Homo sapiens: one gene and its partners. The protein of the gene in region 3 binds, or shares a complex with, the protein of the main gene of each other region. Each region holds a gene or a part of one and is shown on either strand. Other genes may lie near its edges.

Region 1 (5,598 bases), on a different chromosome or scaffold from region 3:
TAGAATGCTTAAAGTTACATTTTACTTCGAGTAAGAGCAGATAATCTAGGATTCATCTGAAAACAGAAGAGCCTCAAGGTTTTCTGAAGTGGATTCCGTCATGGCTCCTCGTGGCTTCTTGGAATTAAAAAACATGGCCACTACCAAGGAAATGAGGAATAATTTTAAAGATGCTTACTTGGAGAAAGAAAGTATACATTGATCTAGAGTGACAGTTCTCCAGCTTAAAAAAAAAAAAAAGTGTTCCTTTTATGTTGACTCAAAATTTTATTTTTGAGACAGGGTCTCACTCCTGCACAGGCTGGAGTACAGTGGTACAAACATAGCTCACTACAGTCTTGACCTCCTGGGCTCAAGCTATCCTCCTGCCACAGCCTCCTGAATAGCTGGGACTACAGGTGCGCATCACCACACCTGGCTTGTTTTTAAATTTTTTGTAGAGACAAGGTTCTCACCATATTACCCAGGCTGGTCACAAATTCCTGGAATCATGCAATCCTCCTGCTTCAGCCTCCCAAAATGTTGGGATCACAAGTGTAAGCCACTGTGCCAGGCCTCAAAATACTAAAATAAATGACCAAAAAAAAAAAAAAAAAAACATCAGCTGGTTGCAGTGGCTCACACCTATAATCCGAGCACATTAGGAGGTAGAGGCGGGAGGATCGCTTGAGCCCAGGAGTTACAGACCAGCCTGAGCAACAAAGACCCCATCTCTACAATAAATACAAAAATTAGTGGGCTGGGCACGGTGGCTCATGCCTGTAATCCCAGCACTTTGGTAGGCCAGCAGGCAGACCACGAGGTCAGGAGTTTGAGACCAGCCTGGCCAGCATGGTGAAACCCCGTCTCTACTAAAAATACAAAAAAAAATTAGCCCGGCATGGTGGTGCACACCTGTATTCCCAGCTACTCGGGAGGCTGAGGCAGAAGAATCACTTGAACCCAGGAGGCGGAGGTTGCAGTGAGCCGAGATCATGCCACTGTACTCCAGTCTAGGTGACAGAGCGAGACTCCGTCTCAAAAAAAAAAAAAAAAAGCCAGGCATGGTGGTGTGTGCCTGTAGTCCCAGCTACTTGAGAGGCTGATGTGGGAGGATCACGTGAGCTAGGGAGGCAGAGGTTGCAGTGAGCCAAGATCATGCCACTGCACTGCAGCCTGGATGACAGACTGAGACACTGTCTCCAAAATTAAAAAAAAAAAAAAAGTTAGTTTAGAATATGCTTCTTCCAGTTTCACATGGCCCACTGGAAAAAAGCTAACAATTATCTGTAAGAGGAGTGAGACAAGATGCTGACTTTGGGGCAGAGTGAAGCAAATAAGCAGTCTTTTGCATGACGAGAGACTTGAAGATACAGAGGATGGCAGTGCATTTAGGGTTTAATTTAGGCTGCAGCTTGGGGAAGAAAATCAGTGGTCATCACTGCCTTTTGTCCACACTGTATCACTAAGCAAAGCTCCTGAGAACAAACTGCTGGGATAGTCATGACCCTCTCTTGGAGTGGATGAATTCTAGGGACAGGTGCCATAAGGAAAGGCTGCAACCCCCACAACAGAAAATACATATTTATTATAAAATAAAGTTAGTTTCATGAAGAGAGTAGAAAAATAACACTATGAGCTACTAAAAAAGTTGTGGAACTCAGTCTCCGAGGATTGGGGTGAGAGGCTTTCACATCACTCTGGAAACCCACCAACATGAGGCTCTCCGTGCTCATGTGGGACAGGTATAGCACAGCTCGTACAGGGAGCATGTGGCTCAGGTCCTGCTTGAAGCCCAAGGAGCCTAGATGGTCCACACGAGATGCTCTGGCCACGGTGATCAAGGAGGAGAACTTGAGGTCAGCAGGGGACTGGTTCTGAGAAGGGGCAGGATGGGAATAACCTTGCCCCTCCCTATACTGGAGTGTAGAAGAGTCTCTTGGGCTGATGGTCCTGGTTTAGAAGATGGTACCCACTGGCCTTATGCTGAGTTGCTTGCCCAAATGTCTGTGCTGAAGAAAAGCCACACAGCCTTTCTCAGGACAACTTGCCCCACCAATTCTCACTGGTGTGGCTAAAGTACCAGAAGCAATATGTGTGGTGTCAGCCTGATGGGCTGCTGGCTGAAATTCTGTACTTCAAATCCTGTCCATACGATGGCAGAAAGAAAGAAAATGTTAAAAGACCAGTGAATGAGAGCAGCTGGCCTCGACTGTTCTATATTCCAAGCCTCCTGGCCCCAAAGGATAGGGAGAGTATCTTCCCTGAGTGGGAAACGATCTACCTACCCTAAACAGGAAAGGCAATCCCATAGCCACCCCTTCCTCCCTCTAGAAAAAAGTCTTCTAGACCCCTTAGGCTTCAGAAGAATACTGAATCCCTCCCTGGGATGGGAACCCAACCCTCTAGTGATGAGAAATGGTCCCTCAGCAGCAGTACCTGGAGAAAGCAGCCAAGGTGAGCACCTCAAGTAAAAGCTCTGAGCCACAGAAGAAGAGCAAGATGCCATTCATGATGGCTTCCAGGCGGAGTACGTAGGTCTGCAGCAGCAGGTAATAGGAGGCCATCATGGCAGATGGGAAGGTCAAGGCCACGCTAATACTGAGCGGCATCTTTCGCTGGCAGAGGTTTCCCTTTGTACCTGTCAGACACAGCCCATGGAGTCATCTCCAAATGGTCTGCTTTTCCTGGCCCAGGGGAAAGGCGTGGGAGATGTGATGGAATGGCAAGGCACAAAAAATAATCCTGAGTGGGGGTGTGCAGATTTATAAATGGGGTCCCACTGTACTAAAAGTTTGAGGCTTAGGAGAGCTACAAGATTAAAGTCACTTAATCCAGAGGTCCTGCTTCCAGTCTGGTTCCCACTCAAGGGACAATGGGATCTTTATTTGGGAAAAACAAAATTTTTAATTATAAAAATAATATATAATCATTTAAAAATTTTCAATGGCCGGGTGCAGTGGCTCACACCTGTAATCCCAGCGCTTTGGGAGGCCAAGGCAGGTGGATCACAAGGTCAGGAGATGGAGACCATCCTGGCTAACACGGTGAAACCCCATCTCTACTAAAAATACAAAAAAAGTAGCCGGGCGTGGTGGCGGGCGCCTGTAGTCCCAGCTACTCGGGAGGCTGAGGCAGGAGAATGGTGTGAACCCGGAAGGTGGAGCTTGCAGTGAGCAGAGGTCACGCCACTGCACTCCAGCCTGGGGAACAAAGCAAGACTCCGTCTCAAAAAAAAAAAAAAATTTCAACACAGAAAATAATTTTTGAGACTATAGAAAGTGAAAGACCTCCATGTCCCTACACCCTGAAGATTATTAGAGAATGACGTGTATTGTTTCAGATTTTTTATACGTATATATTCACATATTACTATTTATTATTATAAAAATAGAAGCATACCCTACATCCTGTTTTGCAACTTATTTTTCCCCCACAAACATTTTTCCACACACATAGCTACCTTAATTTTTTTTTTTTTTTGATAGTGTTTAATTCTGTCACCCAGGCTGGAGTGCAATTGCATCATCATAGCTCACTGCAGCCTCGAACCCCTGGGCTGAAGGGATCTTCCCACTATAGGTACACGTCACTATGCCCAGCTAATTTTTTTTTTTTTTTATTGAGACGGAGTTTCTTGTCACCCAGGCTGGAGTGCAATGGAGCGATCTCGGCTCACTTCAACCTCCACCTCCCAGGTACAAGCGATTATCCTGCCTCAGCCTCCCAAGTAGCTGGGATTACAGGTGCCCGCCACCATGCCCAGCTGATTTTCGTATTTTTTAGTAGAGACAGGATTTCACCATGTTAGCCAGGCTGGTCACGAACTCCTGACCTCAGGCAATCCGTTCGCCTCGGCCTCCCACAGTGCTAAGATTACAGGCGTGAGCCACTGCACCTGGCCTTAACTGTTCTTTTTAATTTTTTTTAATTTTTTGAGACAGAGTCTAGCTCTCTCGCCAGGCTAGAGTGCAGTGGTGCAATCTCGGCTCACTGCAACTTCCGCCTCCCGGGCTCAAGTGATTCTCCTGCCTCACCCTCCCGAGTAGCTGGGATTACAGGCACGTGCCACCACACCCAGCTAATTTTTGTATTTTTAGTAGAGATGGGGTTTCATCATGTGGGCCAGGATGGTCTCGATCTCCTGAACTCGTGATCTGCCTGCCCCAGCCTCCCAAAGTGCTGGGATTACAGGCGTGAGCCACCATGCCCAGCAACTGTTCTTTTTTAATGGTTATATACAAGTCCGTTGAATCAGTGCCGTAACTGATTTAACAATCCCGTATGGACAGATGTTTAGTTTGTTTACAGTGTTTTGATGTTACCAAATTTTTGGCAATAAACATTCTCATATAGCTATCTTCGCATATCTGTGGAATTTTTTTTTAATCTAGTTTTAGAAGTGAAATTGTTGGGGCTAACAGTAAAACATTACACAGTAATAACTACTACCCAAGAGTTGTACTAAATTAAATTACCACAAAAGTGTATAACAACCTGTTCCCCACACCCTAATACTGGGTGTTATAAATCTTTCTTTGCCAGTCTGATGGGTAAAAAATGTTACTTTGTTTCAATTTGATTTTTATTAGCGAGTTTGAGCATCTTGTCAAGTTTTACTGGTTCTCTGTAATTATTTTTACATGAACTGCCATTAATGTCCCTTACCAATTTTTTTTTTTTTTTGAGTCTCACTTTGTCGCCCAGGCTAGAGTGCAGTGGGCGATCTTGGCTCACTGCAACCTCTGCCTCCTGGGTTCAAGCGATTCTACTGCCTCAGCCTCCCAAGTAGCTGGGATTACAGGTGCGCGCCACCACACCCAGCTAATTTTTGTATTTTTAGTAGAGACGGCCACCATGTTGGCCAAGCTGGTCTCAAACTCTTCACCTCAAATGATCCACCCACCTCGGCCTCCCAAAGTGCTGGGATTACAGACGTGAGCCACTGCGCCCAGCCAATTTTTAAAGTTATTTTGTTTTTTCCTTAGTGATTTATGTGAGCCTTCTTTTATCCTTTCTTATATGTTGCAAGTAATTTTGTTCCTAAGTTTGTGCTTTAACGTTGATTTCAGGGATGACATATTCTAACAAATAAGGGTTTTGCTCTGTATTTCTGGGGTTATAAAACTTGTCCTACAGGCCAGGCATGTTGGCTCACGCCTGTAATCCCAGCACCTTGGGGAGGCCAAGGCAGGAAGATTGCTTGAGGCCAGGAGCTTCAGACCAGCCTGGGCAACAAGGCAAGACACTGTCTCTACAAAAAACACAAAATTAGCCAGGTATGATGTCGCACACCTGTGGTCCCAGCTACTCAGGAGGCTGAAGTTGGAGGACTGCTTGAGCCCAGGGCTTCAAGGCTGCTGTGAGCTATGATCGTACCACTGTACTACAGCCTAGGTGACAGAATGAGACCCTGTCTCAAATAAATAAATGTTTAAAAAACAAAATCTGGCCAGGTGTGATGGCTCACACCTATAATCCCAGCACTTTGGGAGGCCAAGGCGGGTGGATCATGAGGTCAGGAGATCGAGACCATCCTAGCCAACATGGTGAAACTCTATCTCTACTAAAAATATAAAAACTTGCCGGGCATGGTGGCAGGCGCCTGCAGTCCCAGCT
Region 2 (9,524 bases), on a different chromosome or scaffold from region 3:
TTATTTTTATTTATTTATTTTGAGACAGAGTCTCGCTCTGTCACCCAGGCTGGAGTGCAATGGTGCAATCTCGGCTCACTGCAACCTCCACCTCCTGGGTTCAAGTGATTCTCGTGCCTCAGCCTCCCGAGTAGCTGGGACTACAGGCGCTCGCCACCACGTTCAGCTGATTTTTTTTGTAGTTTTAGGAGGGATGGGGTTTCACCATGTTGGCCAGGCTTGTCTCGAACTCCTGACCTCAAGTGATCTGCCTGCCTCGGCCTCCCAAAGTGCTGGGAATCCAGGCATGAGCCACTGCACCGGGCCTTTTTTTTTTTTTTTTAGAGGTGCAGTCTTACTTTGTTGCCCAGGCTGGAGTGCAGGGTGCCATCATAGCTCACTGCAGCCTGGACTTCCTGCACTCAAGGCATCCTCCGGCTTCAGCCTCCAAAGTAGCCGGGATGGCCAGGCGCGGCCATACATGGCAAAACCCCATCTCTACTAATTAGCTGGGCGTGGCGGCAGGTGCCTTCAATCCCAGCTACTTGGGAGGCTGAGGCAGGAGAATCACTTGAACCCAGGAGGCAGAGGTTGTGGTGAGGAGAGATCACACCATTGCACTCCAGCCTGGGCAACAAGAGTGAAACTCTGTCTCAAAACAACAACAACAACAAAAATGAAGTAGCCGGGACCGCCGGCTGTGTGCCATACTTGGCTTAAAAGCATTTTGTTTTTGAGACAGGGTCTCACTCAGTTGCCCAGGCTGGAGTGCAGTGGCACAATCACAGCTCACTGTAGCCTCCAACTCTCAACCTAAGCGATCCTCCCACCTCCGCCACCAGAGTAGCTGGGACTACAGGGGCATGCCACCACACCCAGCTAATTTTTTGTATTTTTTGTAGTGATGGGGTTTCATCATGTTGTCCAGGCTGCTCTCAAACTCCTGGATTCAAGCAATCTGCCCGCCTTGGCCTCACAAAGTGCTGGGATTACAGGTGTGAGCCACTGTGCCCAGCCCCATATTCTATTGGTTAGAAGCAAATTACAAAAACTAGCCATACTGAAGGGAAGGAGAATTAGGCTCCACTTACTGAAAGGGGGCTGCCCAAGCATTTGTGGATATATTTTAAAACAGCTTCAGGCCGGGCACAGTGGCTCACACCTGTAATCCCAGCACTTTGGGAGGCTGAGTCAGGTGGATCACTTGAGGTCAGGAGTTCAAGACCAGCCTGGCCAACATGGTGAAACCCCGTCTCTACTAAAAATACAAAAATTACCCGGGTGTGGTGGCACATGCCTGTAATCCCAGCTACTTGGGAGGCTGAGGCAGGAGAATTGCTTGAGCCTGGGAGGCAGAAGTTGCTGTGAGCCCTGGCCCACAGAACGAGACTCTGTCTCAAAAAAACCCAATAACCACCCCCCCCAAAAAAAAGGTGACAGGTTTTCACTCTGTCACCCAGGCTGAAGTACCTTGGCATGATCACAGCTCACTGCAGCCTCAAACTCCTGGGCTCAAGGGATCCTCCTGCCTCAGCCTCCTAAGTAGATGGGACTGCAGACATGTGTCACCATGCCCTGCTATTTTTTTTTTAAACGTTTTCGTAGAAATGAGGGTCTCACTACGTTGCCTAGTCTGGTCCAGAACTCCTGGCCTCAAGTGATCCTGTTGCTGTGGCCTCTCAATGTGCTGGGATTACAGACAGCCATGAACCACCAGGCCTGGCCAACTTTCGATAATGTGGTTAGATAATTCAAACTTAAAGCTGTTGGAACTTTAAATTATTCCAAGCCTTGAGAGGAATGTTGCTATGTAGCCTGAGTCACGTAGCATGCAGTTACAACTTCTGCTTTTTCCTGTAAATGATTAAGAATGACCAAGCAGTGCCAGAGATAAGATCACCTCAGAACATTACTCCTAGGCCGGGTGTTGTGGCCTCACATCTGTAACCCCAGCACTTTGGGAGGCAGAGGTGGATCACTTGAGCCCAGGAGTTTGAGACAAGCCTGGGCAACAGAGTGAGACCATGTCTCTACAGAAAAAATTATTGAAAAATTAGCTGGGCATGGTGGCACACGCCTGTAGTCCCAGCTACTGGGGAGGCTTAGGCAGGAGGCTTGAGCCTGGGCGTTCGAGGCTGCAGTGAGCTGTGATTGTGCCACTGCACTCCAGCCTGGGTAACAGAGCAAGATCTGTTTGTTGTTGTTTTGTTTTGTTTTTGAGACTTTGTCTCACTCTTGTCCCCCAGGATGGAGTGCAATGGCACGATCTCAGATCACTGCAACCTCCGCCTCCCAGGTTCAAGTGATTCTCCTGCCTCAGCCTCCCGAGTACTTGGGATTACAGGCGCCCGCCGCCATGCCCAGCTAATTTTTGTATTTTTAGTAGACACGAGGTTTCATCATGTTGGCCAGGCTGGTCTTGAACCCCTGACCTCGTGATTTGCCCGCCTCAACCTCCCAAAGTGCTGGGATTACAGGCGTGAGCCACCGCGCCCAGCCCCAGAGCAAGATCTTATCTCAAGAAAAAAGAAAGGAGAAAGAAAGAAAGAAAGAGTACTCCTCCTCCTATCAGAATGTTAACGCAATCTTCCCTGCAGCATAGCAAGATGTACTAATGAAACTGTTGTAACATATGTACTGGTCCTGTAGCCTGGAATAAACTCTATAGTTAATCATATTTTCCTTTCTTTTCTTTTTTTTCTTTTTTGAGAGTAGAAGTCTGGCTCTGTCGCCCAGGCTGAAGTGCGGTGGCGTGATCTCGGCTCACTGCAACTGCTGCCTCCCAGGTTCAAGTGATGCTCCTGCCTCAGCTTCCCAAATAGCTGACACCACAGGCATGTGCCACCACACCCATCTAGTTTTGGTATTTTTTAGTAGAGACAGGGTTTCGCTATATGTTGGCCAGGCTGGTCTCGAACTCCTGACCTCAGGGTATCCACTCTCCTTGGCCTCCCAAAGTGCTGGGATTACGGGCATGAACCACCGAATCCGGCCTCAATCATATTTTCTGAATCTCATTATTTATAGTTGACGATAATTTATTTTCTTTTATTTAACATGTATACATGGGAGCCTTCAGAATGAAGACCTCAGCCGGGAGCAGTGGCTCATGCCTGTAATCTCAGCACTTTGGGAGGCCAAGGTGGGCAGATCACCTGAGGTCAGGAGTTTGAGACCTGCCTGGCCAACATGGCGAAACCCCGTCTCTACTAAAAATACAAAAATGAGGCAGGAGGTGCCAGCCAGGTTGTGGAGAGCCTTGTCATGCATGATAAGACTTTGGCTTTTACCCTGAGTGAAATGGGGACCACTGGACGGGTCTGAGCAGATGGGACCTGACTTAGGTGTTCACAGGGTTCCAGCTGCATGTGGGGTGCAAACTAGAGGGGTTGGCAAAGGGGACCCCAGAGACAAGGTCCCTGTCATAGTCCAGGTGATAGATGAACTTGGACAGATCAAGGTGCAGGGCGACAAAGAGGTGAGAAGTGGGATTTAGGGTGTATTTCAAAAGTAGAGGCAGTAAGATTTCCTGATGGACAAAATGGGGGCTTGAGAAAAGAGAATGCAAGGCTGGTGCCACCACTAGGGGACCAGGGGCCCCAAGAGCTGAAAGGTTAGAGCTGTCTACCTCACCCACACAGCATCCAGAAATAAATAAATAAATAAATACATTTTCCCCAGCTCCAGCTTAAAGGACAGAAAGATCATTTAAAAGTGAAACCTCTGCCAGGTGCAGAGGCTCACTCCAGCCTGGGCAACAGAGCAAGATTCTGTCTCAAAAAAAAAAAAAAAAAAAAGTAAATAAATAAAATAAAAAAGAAAATACAAAAAGTAGCTGGGCCCAGGCGAGGTGGCTCATGCCTGTAATCCCAGCACTTTGGGAGGCTGAGGCAGAAGGATCACATGAGGCCAGGAGTTCGAGACCAGCCTGACCAACATGGTGGAACTCCATCTCTACTAAAAGCACAAACATTAGCTAGATATAGTGGTGGGTGCCTGCAATCCCAGCTACTAAGGAGGCTGAGACAGAAGAATTGCTTGAACCTGGGAGGCGGAGGTTGTGGTGAGCAGAGATCATGCCACTGCACTCCAGCCTGGGCGACAGAGGGAGACTCTGTCAAAAAAAAAAAAAAAAAAAAAAACCCGGCCGGTCACGGTGGCTAACGCCTGTAATCCCAGCACTTTGGGAGGCTGAGGCGGGTGGACCACCTGAGGTCAGGAGTTTGAGACCGGTCTGGCCAATATGGTGAAAACCCGTCTCTACTAAAAATACAAAAATTAGCTGGGTGTGGTGGTGCACGCCTGTAGTCCCAGCTACTCGGGAGGCTGAGGCAGGAGAATCTCTTGAACCCGGGAGGCAGAGATTGCAGTGAGCTGGGATCGCACCACTGCACTCCAGCCTGGATGACAGGGGGAGACGCCATCTCAAAAAGTAAAAAACCAAAATTATAACGAGGGTACAACATTTCAATAGGATAACATTTATATTAAACAATTCAATGGAATACTTCACTAGTTGATATATGCATTATTAATGGGGTCTCCCTATATTCGAACTTCTGGCCTCAAGAGCTCTTCCCGCCTCAGCCTTCCAAAGGGCTGGGATTACAGTTATGAGCCACCGCGCCTAGCCAATGGTAGCTTGTAAATACTTTGTATCTATTGGCCTGGCTGGGTGGCTCACGCCTGTAATCCCGGCAGTTTGGGAGGGAGAACTGGGAGGATAGCTAGAGCCCAGGAGGTCAAGACAAGACTGGGCAACATAGCAACATAGCAGGACTCCATCTCTTAAAAAAAAAAAAAAGAATTAGCCAGCCGTGGTGGTGCATGTCTGTGATACCAGCTACATGGGAGGCTGAGGTAGGAGGATCCCTTGAACCCAGGAGTTAAGAGGCTGCAATGAGCTGTGATCGAGCCACCGTACTCCAGCCTGGGTGACAGAGTGAGACCCTTTTAAGGAGCCTTGATGGGACCTGATGACTGGCTTGATGTGGGAAATGATGGCATCTAGGATGGCATCCAGGGACAACATCTCCATTTCTTGATTGATAAATCAATCAATAGGAAAGAGGATTTTCTGCAAATAAGGGAATCTTAGTTCCTCATTTCTCTTCGCTACCCCAACCGCTCCTTGCTCAGAATCAAGCAGTAACAGTGAACTTGGTAGTAGCTCCGAGAAGGAAGTTGGACTTATCCAACTTCCTTCCTTCCTTGTCCTTGAGAAACCTAGGGGAACTCTAAAACGGAAGCAGAACCCACTCCCCAACTTCTCCACTCTCTGAATGAGGAGTGATTTTTTTGCTTTGTTTTCCAGTTACAAGGCCGGGGATGTACACGAGGTCCTGGAAGGAATTCCCCCTTGGTCCTGGTTCAATCTCTGATTTGTGATCCCGGACCACAGAGAGCTCTTCGGTGGGGTAGGCGCAGCACGGAGCAGTTAGGGATTTGCTTTTTTGGTAAAGAAGGTATCTGGGAGAAACTGCACTCAAACTTCCTCAGCCACACTCAACATGGCAGCTTCCTAGCCACGCCCAAAATGGCGGAACCCTTTGCCGTAGCTGGAGAGACGCTATTTTCCCAAAATGGAGCGGAGGAGGAAAATGTCCATCACAGCTTCACCCCGCCCCCCGCAGACGGCTAGCACCAATTAGTAGCGCGCAGAGCGAGTACAAAGCTAGGGGAGGAGCCTGCTGTTGCCCCAGCAACAACCACGGAAACCAAGACGAGCGCGGTCGCGGAAGTATCGCGGCTTACATATCTCGCAGCCAGGCGGGTCCTGGGAGAGGCGCGAGCCAGGCCTGGTCGGCGCCCGCGGAGAAAAGAAGCAGTCAAGCCCATGAACTACAACCCCGGTTGCCGCTTTCTCCTCTCCTAACCGTTAAGTGCGCTAAGGTAGGAATGACGCATGCGCTGCGCTTAGAGGCGGGGTTAAGTCGGACCTGAACTCATAACGCATGCGCCTTATGGAGCTTGCTGGGGGAGGGAAGCGGGGTGGCTGGCGTGACGCGGAAGGCGGGTCTTTTGCGCTCGTGGGCGGAGCCATAGCCCCTTCGGGCGGGGCTTTCCGCCGACCTGAACCCGAAAAGGTTATTTTGGACTTCCCAGAGTTAAATGCTGGTTCCCCAGACAAGGGTCCCCCCATTTTTTCCAGGCTTTCATGGGTTGGCAATTAGGATCTGTGGTCAAGACCTCAGCCTCAGGGGTGTGACGAAGCTAGCTTGGAATCCTAGTACTACCCTTTACTTGCTGGGCCTCAGTTTCCCCCCCGTCAAATGGAGATAATACACTTACCTCACAGGGTTGTGATTATATTTTTCCCCTCCCAGGGCCATGGCTGAGGTGCACGTGATCGGGCAGATCATAGGGGCCAGCGGTTTCTCGGAAAGTAGCCTCTTCTGCAAGTGGGGCATTCACACAGGTATTCCCCCAAGCCTGGTTCATTTCCACACCAAGACCCCTAGCCTAGAGGCTACATGCTCCTTCCTCCACCCCTTAACGCAGACTCTTAACCTCATTTCCATCAGTTCTCAGTACTCCAGGCCCAGCCCACACCCTGTCCACATGAGTCTCAAGCTCCCATCTTTGTGTGTGTGAGGGGTGGGATACAGACAGGGTCTCTCTCTGCGCCCGGGCTGGAGTAAGGTGGTGTGATCATAGCTCAGTGCAGCCTCGAACTCTCGGGCTCTAGTGATCCTCCCGCCTCAGCCTCCTGAGAAGCTGGGACTACAGACACGCACCACCAAATCTGGCTAATTTTTTTTATTTTTTGTAGAGACAGGGTCTCGCTATGTTGCCCAGGCTGGTCTCGAACTCCTGCGCTCAAACAGGCCACCCACTTCAGCCTCTCAAAGTGCTAGGATTAAAAACGTGAGCCGCCACGTCCCAGGAAAGTAATTTTGTTCATGCTTCCCCAACTGAGGCCCTATAGAGTCATGGTATAGTGTAATGGTTAGGGTCATGGGCTGCCAGATCTGCATTTAAATATTAACTCCCCCACCTATTAATTGGAGACCTTTGGACTCGACCACTTTGAGCCTCAGTTTCCTTGTTTCAAAGTGAAGCTAATAGTAGCTAAGAAGCAGCACAGGTTTGAGGTTAAGAGCACAGACTGCCTGGGTTCAAAACCAGTTATTGCTTGTTAAGGCACCCTTGGGCTGATTATGTGAACTTGGGCACTTCTCTTCACCTCGACTTCCTTGTTTGTACAATGAGAGTCATAGAAATATTTACCTGTTGAAGTTGTCATGAGTACTAAACGAGTATCAACAGCACTTAGAATAGGAATAGGGCTGGAATAGGAAGTGCTCATTCAGTGTTTGCCTGGCTTATACAAGACTTTGATGGGGTCTTGTTTGTAAAGCCTGGGGTATGTTGTTGCGTGGCACAGATGAATGTCTATGAAACAGATGTGGCCATTTGGCATTATCATGTCTTCAGGCCTGAGTCCTAGTCCCTTTTTTTTTTTTTTTTTTTTTTTTGAGACTCGTTCTGTTTCCCAGGCTGTAGTGCAGTGGTGCAATCTAGCTCAGCCTTCCAGGTTCATGCCATTCTCCTGCCTCAGCCTCCTGCATAGCTGGGACTACAGGCGCTCGCCACCATGCCCGGCTATTTTTTTTTTTTTTGTATTTTTAGTAGAGATGGGGTTTCACTGTGTTAGCCAGGATGGTCTCGATCTCCTGACCTTGTGATCTGCCCATCTCGGCCTCCCAAAGTGCTGGGATTACAGGCGTGAGCCACTGCGCCTGGCCCTTTTTTTTTTTTTTTTTTTTTTGAGACAGAGTCTCACTCTGTAGCCAAGCTAGAGTGCAGTGGCACGATCTCGGCTCACTGCAATCTCTGCCTCCTGGGTTCAAGCGATTCTCCTATGTCAGCCTCCCGAGTGGCTGGGACTACAGGCACCCGCTACCATACCCAGCTAATTTTTGTATTTTTAGTAGAGATGGGGTTTCACCATGTCGGCCAGGCTGGTCTTGAACTCCTGGCCTTAAGTGATCCGCCTGCGTAGGCCTTCCAAAGTGCTGGGATTACAGGCGTGAGCCACTGCGCCTGGCCCTTTTTTTTTTGAGACAGAGTCTCACTCTGTAGCCAAGCTAGAGTGCAGTGGCACGATCTCGGCTCACTGCAATCTCTGCCTCCTGGGTTCAAGCGATTCTCCTATGTCAGCCTCCCGAGTGGCTGGGACTACAGGCACCCGCTACCATACCCAGCTAATTTTTGTATTTTTAGTAGAGATGGGGTTTCACCATGTCGGCCAGGCTGGTCTCGAACTCCTGGCCTTAAGTGATCCGCCTGCGTAGGCCTTCCAAAGTGCTGGGATTACAGGTGTGAGCCACTGCGCCTGGCCCCTGGGTCCTTTTTGATTCTACAGGTAAGTGAGGTGGAAGTTGAAATTCCCAGGAAATCGGAACCCTCCAGCTGATGGATGAGGGGCAGGCTCTGGAGTCAGACTTGGTTTCCAGGTTGGACCACTCACCTTCTCTGTGACCCTGGGCAGAGGCTGTCCCCTCTTGGAGCCTCAGTTTCCTCATTTGTTCTTCATAGGGCTGTTGGGAAATCTTGCTTTTAAGGAGCCTGACGCAGGGCCTGGTGCTTCCCTCAACTCAGCCCAGAAGGGAGTAATGACTAACCTGATTTTTATTATTTCAGGGAGTTGCTGGGGATGTTGATCCAGCCAAGAATACTGAGGCAGTTGGATGAAAGGCTTGGGCTCTGCAGTTAGAGCTGAGTCTGAATCCAGTCCCATGATGGGACCTTGGTCTGCTATAGTCACTGCTATGTCACCAGCATGGAAAACAGTGCTTGGCACATAGCAGGTGCTGAATAAATGTTCATGAACTCACCTTCTCAGAGCCTGTTTCTTTACCTGTTAAATGGGGATTATATTAGCTCCCACCTCCTAGGATCACTTATTTGTCCAAGAAACATTTATTGAGCACCTTCTGTATACCAAGAGCTGGGTTTGTGGTCTTGGGGATCCAGCAGTGTGCAAGGTCCCTGTTTTCCTGGGCCATACAGTAGGGGAGACAGAAAATAAATAAGCAGGCCAGGCGCGGTGGCTCATGCCTGTAATCCCAGCACTTTGGGAGTCCGAGGCGGGCAGATCACCTGAGGTCAGGAGTTTGAGACCAGCCTGGCTAACATGGTAAAACCCCATTTCTACTAAAAATACAAAAAAAATTAGCTGGGCATGGCGGCGTGTGCCTGTAATCCCAGCTACTCGAGAGGCTGAGGCAGGAGAATCGCTTGAACCCAGGAGGCGGAGGTTGCAGTGAGCCGAGATGGTGCCATTGCACTCCAGCTTGGGCAACAAGAGCAAAAGTCTGTCTCAAAAAAAAATAAATAAAATAAAATAAATAAACAGATAAACGAGTGCAGTTGGGTGTGGTGACTCACCCCTGTAATGCCAGCACTTTGGGAGACTGGAGCAGGAGGATCACTTGAGCCCAGGAGTTTGAGACCAGCCTGGGCAACATAGTGAGACCCCCGTCTCTACAAATAAATAAAAAATTAGCAAAGCATAGTGCTGTGTGCCTGTCGTCCCAACT
Region 3 (9,195 bases):
CCCTGTGGTTATATAAATAAATGAAAGTCGGCTGGGCGTGGTGGCTCACGTTTGTAATCCCAGCACTTTGGGAGGCCGAGGTGGGCGAATCATGAGGTCAGGAGTTTGAGACCAGCCTGGCCAACATGGTGAAACCCCATCTCTACTAAAAATACAAAAAATTAGCTGGGCGTGGTGGCAGGTGCCTGTAATCCGAGCTACTCAGGAGGCTGAGAGAGGAGAATCGCTTGAACCTGGGAGGCTGAGGTTGCAGTGAGCCGAGATCACACCATTGCACTCCAGCCTGGGCAACAACAGTGAAACTCTCTCTCTCAAAAAAAGAAAGTCATCCACTTAAAGCATAGATATAGTGTGTCAGAATCAAACCATAGATTTAACCTTAACAATTGCTATATTTAAGAACTATGTTGAGGCTCAGTGTGGTGGTCCCAGCACTTCAGGAGGCCGAGGCAGGTGGATCTCTTAAGCCCCAGAATATGAGATCAACCTGCTAGCCTGGGCAACATGGCGAAATCCCATCTCCACCAAAAAAACAAAAACGAACAAAAACCTATGTTGAGGCCAGATACAGTGGCTCACACCCGTAATCCCAGCACTTTGGGATTACTCAAGAAGGATACTTGAGCCCAGGAGTTGGAGACCAGCCTGGGCAACATGACAAGACTTTGTCACTTAAAAACAAAATTTTTTTTTAGATGGAAGCGCCTAGGCTGGAGTGCAGTGGCACGATCTCAGCTCGCTGCAACCTCTACCTCCCGGGTTCAAGTGATTGTCCTGCCTCAGCCAAAAATTTTTTTAAAAATTAGCCGGGAATAGTGGCCTCAGCTATTCAGGAGGCTGAGGCAGGACAAGTACTTGAGCCCAGGAGGTAGACAGAGGGAGACCCTGTATAAAAACAACAACAACAACAAACTACATTGCCACCCCAGAAAAGCTTTTAATCAAGAACAAGTAGTATTGAACCTGATATTTCAAAAGCATTTTGTGGCTGATGACGTTGTCGTCTTGGACTGTAGTAAGGACCCTAGGATGGTTTTCCCAAATGGGCAGTCTTGACCTCTCTATTAAGTCTGTGATGTTAGGATGTCAGCTGTTCTCTTCATCTAAAAGCCACTTCGAGGTTGCTTTCAAAGTAGTGGGAGTAACTACTGGACTCCACCCAGCACAAACCTCACGCCATCTCCTGACACTGCAATGTGATCCTTCAGGGCTTTTTTTTTTTTTTCCCTTTCTTCAGACAGTCTCGCTCTCGCTCTGTCACCCAGGCTAGAGTGCAGTAGTGCAGTCACTGCTTACTGCAACCTCTAACTCTTGGGCTCAAGCAATCCTCCTTTCTTAGCATCCCAAAGTGTTACTGGAAAGGGGTCCCAATCCAGATCCCAAGAAAGGGTTCCTGGCTCTCAACACAGGAAAGAATTTGGGGCAAGTCCACAGAGTAAAAAAAAATGGCTACTCCATAGACAGAGCAGCAGTATGGGCTACTCGACTGAGTAAATTTATAGTTATTTCTTGATCCATATGGTAAACAAAGGGTAGATTATTCCTGACTTTTCCAGGAAAGGGGCAGAGATTTCCCCAGAACTGAGGGTCCCTCCCCTTTTTAGACTATATAGGGTAACTTCCGGACATTGCCGTGGCATTTGTAAATTGTCATGGCACCAGTGGGAGTATCGTTTAGCATGCCAATGCATTACAATGAGCAGATCATGAGCAGTGAGGACGACCAGAGGTCACACTCAAGGCCATCTTGGTTTTGGTGGCTTTTGACTGGCTTTTTTTCTTTTTTCTTTCTTTTTTTTTTTTTTCTCTGAGACAGAGTTTCGTTCTTATCACCCAGGCTGGAGTGCAATGGCGTGATCTCGGCTCACTACAACCTCCGCCTCCCGGGTTCAACTGATTCTCCCTCCTCAGCCTCCAGAGTAGCTGAGACTACAGGTGCCCGCCACCATGCCCAGCTAATTTTTGTATTTTTAGTAGAGACAGGGTTCCAGGCATGAGCCACCATGCCCGGCCTTGGCTGGCTTCTTTTTAACTGCATCCTGTTTTATCCACAGGGTCTCTGTAACCTGTATCTTGTGCCATCCTTCTAGCTCATACTGTGACTAAGAATGCCTTACCTCCTGGGAAGACAGCTCAGTAGGTCCCAGCCTTATTTTACTTAGCCCCTATTCGAGATGGAGTTGCTTTGGTTCAAACACCTCTGACAAAAGTGCTAAGATGAGCCACTTCACCCAGCCTCAACAGCCTCTTGACTGGTCTCCCTGACTTCTGTTTTTCCTCACCCCTCACTCAATGACCCCATCCTGGTATACTGTAAACCTAAAATAAAATTCTAAGCTCCCAACCATCTGAATGGAACCCTTGTCTCAGCCAAGGGCATTCCAAAGTTAACCTGAAAAACTAGTCTGGCCATCATGGGAAGTGGGGAGTCAGACGTAACTCATTATACCCTCCTCTTTTTGGAATTCAGACCCAGCTGACCAGTATTAGCATCAACACATAGATCTTAAGACTGATATTAATAGAACAGACTCTTAAAGTCTGATAAGAAACATTTACAATCTGTTCTCTCTGAAGCCTGGAGGCTTCATCTGCATGATAAAACATTAGACTCCACAACCCCTTATTGTTTTTTGTTTTTGTTTTTTTTTTGAAATGGAGTCTCACTTTGTCACCCAGGCTGAAGTGCAGTGGTATGATCTCGGCTCACTGCAGCTGCTGCCTCCCGGGTTAAAGCAATTCTCCTGCCTCAGCCTCCCAAGTAGCTGGGATTACAGGTGGACACCGCCAGATGCAGCTAATGTTTTTTTTTTTAATACATATTTTTGGTAGAGACAGGGTTTCACCATGTTGGCCAGGCTGGTCTTGAACTCCTGACCTCAAGTGATCTGCCTGCCTTGGCCTCCCAAAGTGTTGGGATTACAGGCGTGAGCCACTGTGCCCCGCCCACAAACCCACACATTCCTTTCTATTGATTCCAGGTCTTTAGATAATAACCAGTTGACAATTGGAAAAATCTCTGAATCTGCCAATTCTGTGGTCTGGAAGCCCCACCCCACCTCCACTTGTCTCATCTTTCAGTACTGAACCAATGTACATCTTACACGTATTGATTGATGTCTTATGTCTCCCTAAATGTATAAACTCAAGTTATACCCTATCCACCTTGGGCGTATGTCATCAGGACCTCCTGAGGCTGTGTCACAGGCATGTCCTTAACCTTGGCAAAATAAATTTCTACGTTGATTGAGACTTGTCTCAGATACATTTTGGTTTACACTACTGACATGCTGTCATTAGAGTGACTTTTCCAAATCACAAAGCTTATCATGTCTTTCCACTTAAATGTCATTTTACTGACCCTTTAACAAATTTACTTATATTTAAATATTTTGTATTTATTTTTTTAGAGACAAGGTCTCCTTCTGTCTCCCAGCCTGGAGTGCAGTAGTGCATTCATGGCTCACTGCAGCCTCCTGGGCTCAAGCCTTCCTCCTGCCCAGGCCTCCCGAGTAGCTGGACCTACAGGCATGAGCCACTGTGCTCAGCCACTCAGGACCTTTTTGTTGTTGTTGTTGTTGTTTGAGATGGAGTCTCGCTGCCACCCAGGCTGGAGTCCAATGTGTGATCTCCGCTCACTGTAATCTGTGCCTCCCGGGTTCAAGCGATTCTCCTGCCTCAGCCTCCAGAGTAGCTGGGATTACAGGTGCCCATCACCATGCCTGGCTAATTTTTGTATTTTTAGTAGAGATGAGGGTTCACCATGTTGGCCAGGCTGGTCTTGAACCCCTGACCTCAGGTGATCCGCCCACCTTGGCCTCCCAAAGTGTTGGGATTACAGGCGTGAGCCACCGTGCCCAGCCATTCAGGGCCATTTGATGAAGAAATTGGCTGTGGACCATAGATTTTTTTAAAAAGTCCTTCTACCATGTTAGAAATATTGGTTGGGGGTGGTGGCGGGGGGGTGTAGGCATTCAATTAAGCAATAAGCCAGTGATCTTTGGGGAGGACCATATATTCCTGTAAAACTCGCGGCTGAGCTGTACCCAACACAGGGTTAACGAAGTGCATCAGAGCTTTGTAGTAATTCCACTCTATCCGTGGAAGAGCCAGGGGATTTGTGTTTCCGTGTCTGTCTTGCATGGGAGCATAGTGGAAGCAACAGAAAATCTGGGGGCAAAAGCACCTGGCTTTGATCTCAGCCCAGGACCAGGTCCAGGACCACGGCCAGGCTTGTGACTGACTGGACTTCAGTAGGAACCACACTGGGGGTTAACAGATGACACAAAAGCAGGTGTTCGTTCTGTGCGGGAGACGCGCTAGGGGAGAAGAAAAGGCACACACACAGTACCTTTAAGGGTAAGCAAGCTTTATCCCACGTAAATGGCAATGCAGATATTATAATAAGCAAATTAATATAATAAGCAGATTGATATAATAAGCAAATTGCAATGGGAAGAGGAGAAGGAAAAAGACATATATATATATATATTTACACTCACCAGACTATGGAGGATTCACCTCCAGACTGGGAAGCAACGACCTGGGCTCCAGAGCCGGCCACTCGTCAGTGCACAGACGAGGAGAGGTCTCATGAAGCTTTTTGGCGTGGTCTGGGACCCTAGATCTTTTTGTAACATGTTGTCTAGCATGAGGCCCAGTCACGAGGGCCCTTTGCGACTGGGCTCAAGGAACACAAAAAGGTCAACTTGTTTTTGCGATTGTTGTTTTTCAATAACTGACGTATAGGAGTAGACTGAAATAGAGATTTCTCCGAAACAGCGCTGGATGAACGCCTCAAGGGGCTCCCACAACCTGTTTAGGGACTTGGTGACCATTGTTTGTGTCCATGTCAGTTGAAATTTAAATATTTAGTTCTTCCTCCTCAGTGTTCAAGTCAACTTTTATGGGCATCTTATTTTACACAAATGTTAACACAGACAACAGCCACGACTCTGGTCCACGGAAACGTTCTATCGCCGCCCAGCCTTTACGCAAACGTACACAGCTCGAAAAGCTAGGCCGACCGTCCCCGGCAGCGCCACGCCCGCTAACCCCGCCCCCGCCACTGGCTCCTTTCGGTGCGGCCTTGCTATTGGCTCCTTTCTGTGAGCCGTCGGTTGCCGTGGAGACCGAGGCGATGGCAACCAGGAGAAGCCAAACTTGGTCCCCCGGCTCGCGGAGTGCCTGCGAGCGGTGCTCATGGCGCTCTATGAGCTCTTCTCTCACCCGGTCGAGCGCAGTTACCGCGCGGGGCTCTGCTCCAAAGCCGCGCTGTTCCTGCTGCTGGCCGCTGCGCTCACGTACATCCCGCCGCTGCTGGTGGCCTTCCGGAGCCACGGTGAGCCTGCCCCGGCCGCTGTGCCACGAGGCTCCCCGGGCGCGCTCGGCCAGGGCCGGCCTCCCTAACCGCCTCCCTACCGCCCTCTTTAACTCAGGGTTTTGGCTGAAGCGGAGCAGCTACGAGGAGCAGCCGACCGTGCGCTTCCAACACCAGGTGCTGCTCGTGGCCCTGCTCGGACCCGAAAGCGACGGGTTCCTCGCCTGGAGCACGTTCCCCGCCTTCAACCGGCTGCAAGGGGATCGCCTGCGCGTCCCGCTCGTTTCGGTGCGTGGTTCCCGCCTGGGCCTGGGGCAGAGTCGGGGATAGGGTGGGGATGGGGACTGGAATGAGGATGTGGGGCGAGCGGCCCCGGCCCTGGGGAGCCCAGCTTTGATCCTAAGGACTCGCGAACCCGCAAAGGTGGCGTTTCATCTCCTAGGACCTAGGGAATCGATCTTCTGTTTCATTCTGCTTCTCCCAGATGTCCCCGGCCCCCAGAAAGTTAGCCATGCTGTCAGCGTGTGCGCCCTGACACAGAGTCCAGAAGTGTGGGGGCAGCCTGTGTCTGCCCGGGTCACACCCGCGGGCCTGGCCTGATGGAGGGTGTTTGTGAAAGTCCATTTAGGAGCCTGGAAGGCCGCGCGCTGTTAATGTAGATAACCCCATTCTGTCGCGGCGTTTCTGCATCACACCACTATAGGAACGGAAAGGGCAGCATTTTTATGCAGACCTGACCCCTGGAAACCAAGGCGCTGATTGGTTAAGCGGCCTTCCCAGAACGCGCTGTGGCCGAGTCACGCCTCCCTGGGTTTGTCCCATTGGAGACTGCGCCATCCTGAAGCTGTCGGGATGAAATGGAAGCATGTTACTGTCTGTAATTTATTTATTTATTTTTAAATTTTTTCACCAGTAGAGCGCTGAGAGGAATCTGTAATTTAGTATTTGCTTTGAGATAAGCGAATGCTTCCTTTGTAGTCACTCCTTTTCACTCATTTTCTGAAAACGTTTTCCTTTAGAAGTATGAAACTTCTGGTTTTCCTTCTTTCAAATTCGAATCTCTTCAGACATATCTAAGATGATTGCCCTACAAGCCAACCTTGTATAGCTGAGGAGAAAAGAAAATCAGACTTGTTCCCAGCAACTAAATAAAATTGTTTTTAAAAATCCGATTGGTCGTATAAATAACTGCAAAAAAAATAGTAATAGGTTGATGCAAAAGTCATTGCGGCTTTTGCCATTAAAAGTAATGACAAAAAACCGGAATTACTTTTGCACCAACCTAATATGATTCAGGTTACTTTTCTCCTATTACTTTATAAATGTTCTTATATTCTGATTACAAAAGTGCATGCTCATTCTAAAATATGATAGAGTTACAGGTAGATATAATGACAGAAATTGAAGGCTCAGTTTTGTATATGTATCAATACTTATTAATCAGCTGTATTCTTTTTGAGGTTTGCTTTGACTTTTTCACTATTAGGGACAACATTTCTTTTTTTCTTTTCTTTTTTCTTTTCTTTTCTTTTTTTTTTTTTTTTTTGAGACACAGTCTTGTTCTGTTGCCCAGGCTGGAGTGCAGTGCTGCAATTCTCTGCTCACTGCAACTCTGCCTCCTGGGTTCAAGCAATTCTCGTGCCTTAGCCTCCCGAGTAGCTGGGATTACAGGCTAATTTTTGGATTTTTAGTAGAGAAGGGGTTTCACTATGTTGGCCAGGCTGGTCTCGAACTCCTGACCTCAGGTGATCCACCCGCCTTGGTCTCCCAAACTGCTGGGATCATAGGTGTCAGCCACTGTGCCCGGCCTAGGGACAATATTTCAATGAACAAGGTTTTGACTAAATCTTATGCCTTTAAACATCAAATTTTGAGGAATTGGAATAGCAGCTCTTTGATGAAATGGTATAAGTACATAGAAAACTAAGCAAATAATTATTAACTGCAGGGAAATGAAAAGTAAGGAAAACTGAGAACCAAAATGTTATCAGAGTTGTGAATAGGATTGACATAGTCTTAATTATATGAACACTGAATGTTTACTAAAAAGAGATTTTAACTCTATTGGGGGTAATGAGAAAGGTATTGGGTATGTGATAGGGGATGGTGGGAGGAATTGGGGGAGAGAAGAAGCTAAATCATCTTTCCTTGTGGGAACTCAATAGAGAATGCCTAAAACTGAGAAACTGAGAATTTTCAATGCAAATGTTATCTCAAGACCTGGAGATACATTTCTAAATGATCAGGTAAATGAGATAAAAATATTTGCCGCCAGAAATGATAGCTCACACCTGTAATCCTAGCACTTTGGAAGGCTGAGGCAGGAGGATTGCTTGAGCCCAGGAGTTCAAGGCCAGTGTGGGCAACATAGCAAGACCCCACATTTCAAAAAAATAAAAAATTAAAAAGAAATAGAGAAGTGGTACAATTTGCCCTAGCTTTTCTTCTTTTCTTTTTTTTTTTTTTTTTTGCAACAGAGTTTCACTCTGTCAGCCAGGCTGGAATGCAGTGGCACAATCTCAGCTCACTGCAACCTCTGCCTTCTGGGTTCAAGCAATCCTCTCGCCTCAGCCTTCCAAGTAGCTGGGACTGCAGGCATGCACCACCACTCCGGGCTAACTTTTTTGTGTTTTTTAGTGGAAACAGGGTTTCACCATGTTGGCCAGGCTGGTCTAGAACTCCTCAACTCTGGTAATACACTCACCTCAGCCTTTCAAAGAGCTGGGATTACAGGTGTGATTACAGGTGTGAGCCACTGCTTTGAAGTGAACAGAGTCTGGACTGGAACTCAGTATTTCTTATGCTATATCTTAAAATCTTAGCCCTTATTGCAACAAACTACTTTTATTTTCTAACTTTGAACATAGAGCCAGACTGACGTCAGTCTATCCAGGAAACTGTCCAGAAGGCAAAGGAAACAGTGGTTGTTGATTAAGGTTGGACCAAGTGCTGGGAGGTGGCTTTGCAGTGGCTAATTGGGGGAAATGCTGAAGTCACAAACAGCCTTGCTTCTGCTTTGGTCAGCTCATCCTGGACAGCGTCTCTAAGCTCCCTACATGTTTAATGCTTTGGAAGTCTAGTTTTTGTTGTTTTTAATGAGAGAAGAGAAAAGCAGAGTGACTTTTTCCCCCTCAAGCCTCAAGGAGGCTGACATAGCTCTTGAAGGCATGTGTGGACCCAGAGAATACAGGGACTGAAGGTTATAGAAGGATTCCAGAGGATGAGTGGAGAGTACCGTGTTTCTAAGACACCTGTTTCTTCTCATCCCTGAAATCAGTGTCTTCCTGTCTGTGGTTATCAACTGTTGGCAAGGAGGCAGGTATGGCATAGTTCTCATTGCTTACACCTGTGCCGGCATCAAAACATGCAGAAGGGGCATCATTTCTGTGTAAGAGGTAGGTGTTAGAAAAATAAAAATGCAATTAAAAAGAAGGGGCATCAGCAACCTCAGAGGAAACCCCAGAGACAGTAGTAGAACATTTTTTTAACCCCTGAATTGAATGGAGAGCAAGTAAGGGAAAGTTTGAGAGGCTTTTAAAAACAGGAAAGCTCTCCATAATTTCAAAGTCTGCTTAAGGGCCCAGACCAATGGCTTTTAGTTTCTTTTATGAATTGTTTGTTTGTTTGTTTGTTTGTTTTGAGACAGGGTCTCACTCTGTCACCCAGACTGGAGTTCAGTGGCGCAATCTTGGCTCACTGCAGCCTCCGCCCCCCAGGTTCAAGAGATTCTCCTGCCTCAGCCTCCGAAGGAGCTGGATTACAGGCTCCTGCCACTACGCCTGGCTCATTTTTGTATTTTTAGTATAGATGAGGTTTTACCATGTTGGCCAGGCTGGTCTCGAACTCCTGAGCTCAAGTGATCTGCCTGCCTCGGC
Region 4 (5,009 bases), on a different chromosome or scaffold from region 3:
TTTCAAGTCTTATTAAGAAATACATTTTGTATGGCTATAGTTGCCATAGATAGTGATTCCTCTGATGGATCAGGGCAAAGTAAATTGAAAATATTCTGGAAAGGATTCAATTAGAAGGATTCACCATTCCAGGTGCCATTAAGAATATTCGTGATTCATTGGAGGAGGTCAGAATATCAGCATTAACAAGAGATTGGATGAAGTTGATTCCAACTCTCAATGGATGTCTTTGTAGGGTTCCAGACTTTAGTGGAGGAAGTCACTGCAGATGTGGTGAAAATAGAACCAGAATTAGAAATAGAGCCTGAAGATCTGACTGAACTGCTGCAACCTCATGATAAAACTTGAATGGATATAGAGTTGCTTCTTATGGATGAGCAAAGAATATTTGTTTCTTGGTCGGGCGCGGTGGCTCACTCTTGTAATCCCGGCACTTTGGGAGGCGGAGGCAGGAAGATTGCTTGTGTCCAGGAGCTCAAGACCAGCCTAGACAACATAGTGAGACCCTGTCTCTACAAAAAATAAAAGATTAGCTGAGTGTGGTGGCGTGTACCTGTAGTCCCAGCTACTTGAGAGACTGAGGTGTGAGGATTGCTTGAGCCTAGGAGGTTGAGGCTGCAGTGAACCATAATCACACCACTGCACTCCGCCTGGACGACAGAGCAAGACCCTGTCTCAAAAAAGTTTATTGAGATGGACTCTACTCCTGGCGAAGATGCTGTGAACATTTGTCAAATGACAACAAAGGATTTAGAATATTACATAAACTTAATTGATAAAGCAGTGGCAGAGTTTGAGAAGATTAATTCCAGTTTTGAAAGAGATTCTGTGGGTAAGATGCTATCAGCATTTCATGCTACAGAGAAATCTTTCATGAAAGGAAGAGTCAGTCAATGCAACAAACTTCATTGTTGTCTTATTTTAAGAAATTCTCACAGCCACCCCAACCATCAGCAACCACCAGTTGCTAATCAGCCAGCAACATCGAGGCAAGACCCTCCATCAGCAAAAAATTACAACTTACTGCAGGCTCAGATGATCATTAGCACTTTTGAACAATAAAGTATTTTTAAATTAAAGGTATGTACATTTTTGAGATAATGCTTTTGCACGCTTAATACACTATAATACAGTGTAAACATAACTTTGCACTGGGAAACCAAAAAAATTGGTGTGACTCATTTTATTGCAGTATTCACTTTATTGCAATGGTCTGGAACCAAGTGCACACTATCTCCGAGGTATGCCTGTACATGCAAACCTGTGGAAGATGAAGTAATCTTGCAGTCTTGGATATTTATTTGTTTTGTTTATTTGGAGAGAGGAGGAGGAGTAGCAATAAAAACTGGTAAACATTCAGTTCAGGCAAATTGTCTTAGTGTTTTCTAAAGATGAAGAATCATTTGATGGAATATAACTCACTACTGCTTTTTATTTCAACTAATATTTGAATTAAACACAGCAAAGGAGGAGGAACTCTAAAGGCTCTAATGATGCTCTCTTTAAAGCTTTACCTTGCTCTAAGGTAAAACTTGTTAAGTTTCTCTCACTTTCATTCCATTGCTGTTAATATTTGCCCAAGCAAAAGGTAAGTAAGTACAAAGGAATAGAGGCAGGAAGCTCATAATATATCGTACTGTGGGTAGTCTCAATTGAATTTCAGGGTCAAGTAGCAGACACAAGGCAGACTGCTAAATAGAACACTTTGCACAGTTTGAAAACAGTTGATAATTTTATTATTTGCCAATAATATGTTCTTCTGATGTGATGCATATAATTTAAAATTTTCTCATATCCTAAGTGTAGTTTTTACATGATACAGAAAGTACAGTGAAAAAAATTACCTGTTGCGTATAAGAGAGGCAACATAGATCCAAACAGACAAAACATTTTTGGGGTATGGGTGTATGTATACAGCTAAAGCAAATTCAACATTAGGAACATCAATATTATGTACTCCAGTACTATACACAGCGTCAATTAAAGGCTTCACTTCAGAATAAGGCATGTGAAGAGGAAATCCAGAGAACTGAAGGGAAAAAACATTTGTAGTCATTAGTGAAGTTTGAAGATTTAATACATTTTTTCCTACGTAAATGTATGCAATTAAGATAAGTGTTCTGGATCTCAGTTATTTGCTTGTGTTTTTCTACTCAGCTTTTTATTAGCAATACAGAAAATCGAGAGCTGCTTAATATCCATTTTGTTTTCCTTGCATATAGGTGTATAAGCCACCTGTTAGTCACTCCATCACTGTTCCCTCTTTTTGAAAGTACCTAGTATGCATCGTAACCATTGTAATTCCAGATACATAGGTTAAACTAACAAATACATTTCTTTTTTCTTTTTTTTTTTTTTTTTTGAGACAGGTCTGACTGTTGTCCATGCTAGACTGCAGTGGCATGATCATGGCTCACCACTGCAGCCTCGGCCTCCTGCTGGGCTCAAATGGTCCCCCCACTTTAGCCTCCTGAGTAGCTGGGACTGCAGGCAAGTGCCACCATCCTGGCTACTTTTTGTATTTTTTGTAGAGATGGAGTTTTGCCATGCTGCCAAGGCTGATCTTGAACTCCAGGGCTCAAGCGATCCGCTGCCTCAGCCTCCCAAAGTGCTGGGGTTACAGGTGTGAGCCATAGCGCCCGACAATAATTTTCGTCCCCTTGGCTACAATGATTGATCCACGGGGATGGGCAAGTGATCAAAGGGAGTCTCAGAGGGAATCTTGGGAAACTTGTTAGGAATAATGGCACGTGATGTTCTCCTGCTTTGGGTAGTATGTGCGCAGATGTGAATTCTGTAAGTGTTCCAGCATTTGCTTCCATGAGGAAACCCAGTCTCAGGATGATGCCATCATACGGAAGAGGAGGGCAGAATGGGAGGACTTGCAAAAGAGTGGGACAGCCCTGATAGCTACCCTCTAAGCTTTACTTAAGCCAGTAGATTCTCTATTGCTCAAGCCTTTTTGAGTTTTCTGACACTTGAACTGAAAATATCCTGGCTGAGAACCTGCCTTATAAGTTAAAGGATAAATTTTACTCAGTGAGTGATCTAATTTGACCTTCACACTGTTTAGCTAGTAAGGCTTACTGTTAAGTTTTAGTTACGAGCCTGCTTTGTAGGTTTTATTATCCAGCTATAGCATGTGAACATAGCAGCAGGCAGTAAAGAGGGTATATCGTCTATTAATAACCACCTTTCTTAGCAATGAAAAGCAATCAGTATAAAACCATATCCTTAAAAAAACTGCTCTAGAGTGTTTTGATCCTTATGCACAGTTGTGTCTAACATGATTTAGCCAGATGTTTTCATTTTTTTGATACGTAAATGTATTTCATAAAAGGTATTTTTCATGGGATACTTATATGAAAAATGGTGGTATTTTGCTATTTCATGATTATTGAGGTTTAAAACTTATGATCACAGTTTTTAGTTTATGCTGCTTTAAATATGTACTTCTGGGAGCAACGTGGGTCTTTTGATTCCAGAAACCTATTATTGGCTAATTTCCAATTTGAAACAAGGAAATCCACAGTCAGTTTAGGATCCATTTGTAACTTACCCTGTAGTCTCCCAGCTGTTTTAGCAGTTCTGCTCTGTGGTCATCTTCTACATCTTCTCCTTGACTTTTTTCTAACAGAGGCAAGAAGTGACGCAGAGTAGAGGTACAATACCTATTCCACCGAGTCAGATGGCGTGGCCTCCAGTCCATGATTTTTTCTTTTAGTATTTTTTCAATCCTGTTCACAAAACATAAATTCCATTTTTTGGTGACTCACTTTTCCCTTGTTAAAAAATGTATGTAGTATGTAGTGGGGATTCAGATGATTGTATAACTATATTTTTGTTGATGGAGTTGTGATTATCCAGGCATAGTTAATGTCTAATAATGGGCTACTCCCTGGGGATTCAAAATTAACATGCAGTCCTGTCCTTAAGGGTTGTATATGAGTTGAGATGGGAAATAGTCCTATAAATAGAAAGTATGTGTATCCTAAGAGCTATAACAGATGCTTGAAATGTAACACAGAAGAGGGAGTACTGAATGACTTGGGGATAGCTGAATTCAATACATGCAGCAAAAGTTTATTATTACTAATTTTTTTTAAAGGCAGGATCTTGCTCTGTTGCCCAGGCTGGATTGAAGTGGTACAATCACAGCTCACTGCATCCTCAACTCTCGGGCTCAAGTGAACCTCCCACCTCAGCCTCTTTGGTAGCTGGGACCACAGGTGCATGCCATTATGTCTGGCTAATTTTTTTTTCTTTTTTATAGAGACAAGGTCTTGCTATGTTGCCCAGGCTGGTCTCAAATTCTTGGGCTCAAGTGATCCGCCTGCCTTGGCCTCCCAAAGTGTTGAGATTACAAGTGTGAGTCACTGCGCTTGGCCATGAAATGTTTTTTTGAAATGTTATGACTATACTCATTGGTAGTATATATACAGACAGATGAATTAGACACAGGCGTAAGAAGTAGGGCTTATGTTGAAAGCCTCAAATATTTGTGGAGCTCTTAGTGCCTCGTGATTTATTCACATCATGAATAGTGAATTCTATCCATGATGATTAATTTTTTTCTAAATTGCCTTAAAACTGCCTTTAAAATACCAACATCATTGAAACTGTTTGTGATAAGTACAGGTATTGGGTTCATAGGGTGTGAAGTTTAAGCATGGAATGAAGGAAGATAGCTACTATTTATTGGGCCATTATTTACCAGATACTGCGCTAAGTGCTTTTTGTAGATGTTTATTTAATCTCAATAATAACCTTACGAGGTAGGGGATATTGTCCTGATTTTACAGATGAGGGGACAGTTTGAGGTAGGATAAGTGATTTGACTAAGGCAAAGGAGCTTGGATTCAAATTGAAACCCTGCTGATTCTAAAGCCTCTTGTACATTGCCTAACTAAATGCATGGGTTTAGAGACCTAGCTAGCTTCTCATTGTTCAGTAGTCATAGGGATCATTTCTTTTTTGGTGCTTAGCACATCTTTGTTTTGGATTTCAAG

Evidence for each region.
Region 1: TMEM231 (region 3) and TMEM216 share a complex: the UniProt entries of both Homo sapiens proteins name them as parts of the tectonic-like complex.
Region 2: TMEM231 (region 3) and B9D2 share a complex: the UniProt entries of both Homo sapiens proteins name them as parts of the tectonic-like complex.
Region 4: TMEM231 (region 3) and CC2D2A share a complex: the UniProt entries of both Homo sapiens proteins name them as parts of the tectonic-like complex.

What each region holds. Positions count from the first base shown.
Region 1 is NC_000011.10:61,394,796-61,400,393, reverse strand, and holds the end of TMEM216 (transmembrane protein 216), read right to left. Parts: intron 2,621-5,598; coding exon 2,419-2,620; intron 2,134-2,418; coding exon of another isoform or gene 2,125-2,133; coding exon 2,118-2,124; 3' UTR 1,548-2,117; downstream 1-1,547. UniProt on the Homo sapiens protein: Part of the tectonic-like complex which is required for tissue-specific ciliogenesis and may regulate ciliary membrane composition.
Region 2 is NC_000019.10:41,360,305-41,369,828, reverse strand, and holds the start of B9D2 (B9 domain-containing protein 2), read left to right. Parts: upstream 1-5,679; 5' UTR 5,680-5,871; exon of another isoform or gene 5,872-5,882; intron 5,883-5,903; exon of another isoform or gene 5,904-6,065; intron 6,066-6,305; 5' UTR 6,306-6,309; coding exon 6,310-6,397; intron 6,398-9,524. UniProt on the Homo sapiens protein: Component of the tectonic-like complex, a complex localized at the transition zone of primary cilia and acting as a barrier that prevents diffusion of transmembrane proteins between the cilia and plasma membranes.
Region 3 is NC_000016.10:75,552,217-75,561,411, reverse strand, and holds the start of TMEM231 (transmembrane protein 231), read left to right. Parts: upstream 1-5,202; coding exon 5,203-5,341; coding exon of another isoform or gene 5,342-5,438; coding exon 5,439-5,608; intron 5,609-9,195. UniProt on the Homo sapiens protein: Transmembrane component of the tectonic-like complex, a complex localized at the transition zone of primary cilia and acting as a barrier that prevents diffusion of transmembrane proteins between the cilia and plasma membranes.
Region 4 is NC_000004.12:15,598,257-15,603,265, reverse strand, and holds the end of CC2D2A (coiled-coil and C2 domain-containing protein 2A), read right to left. Parts: intron 3,738-5,009; coding exon 3,560-3,737; intron 2,030-3,559; coding exon 1,841-2,029; 3' UTR 1,714-1,840; downstream 1-1,713. UniProt on the Homo sapiens protein: Component of the tectonic-like complex, a complex localized at the transition zone of primary cilia and acting as a barrier that prevents diffusion of transmembrane proteins between the cilia and plasma membranes.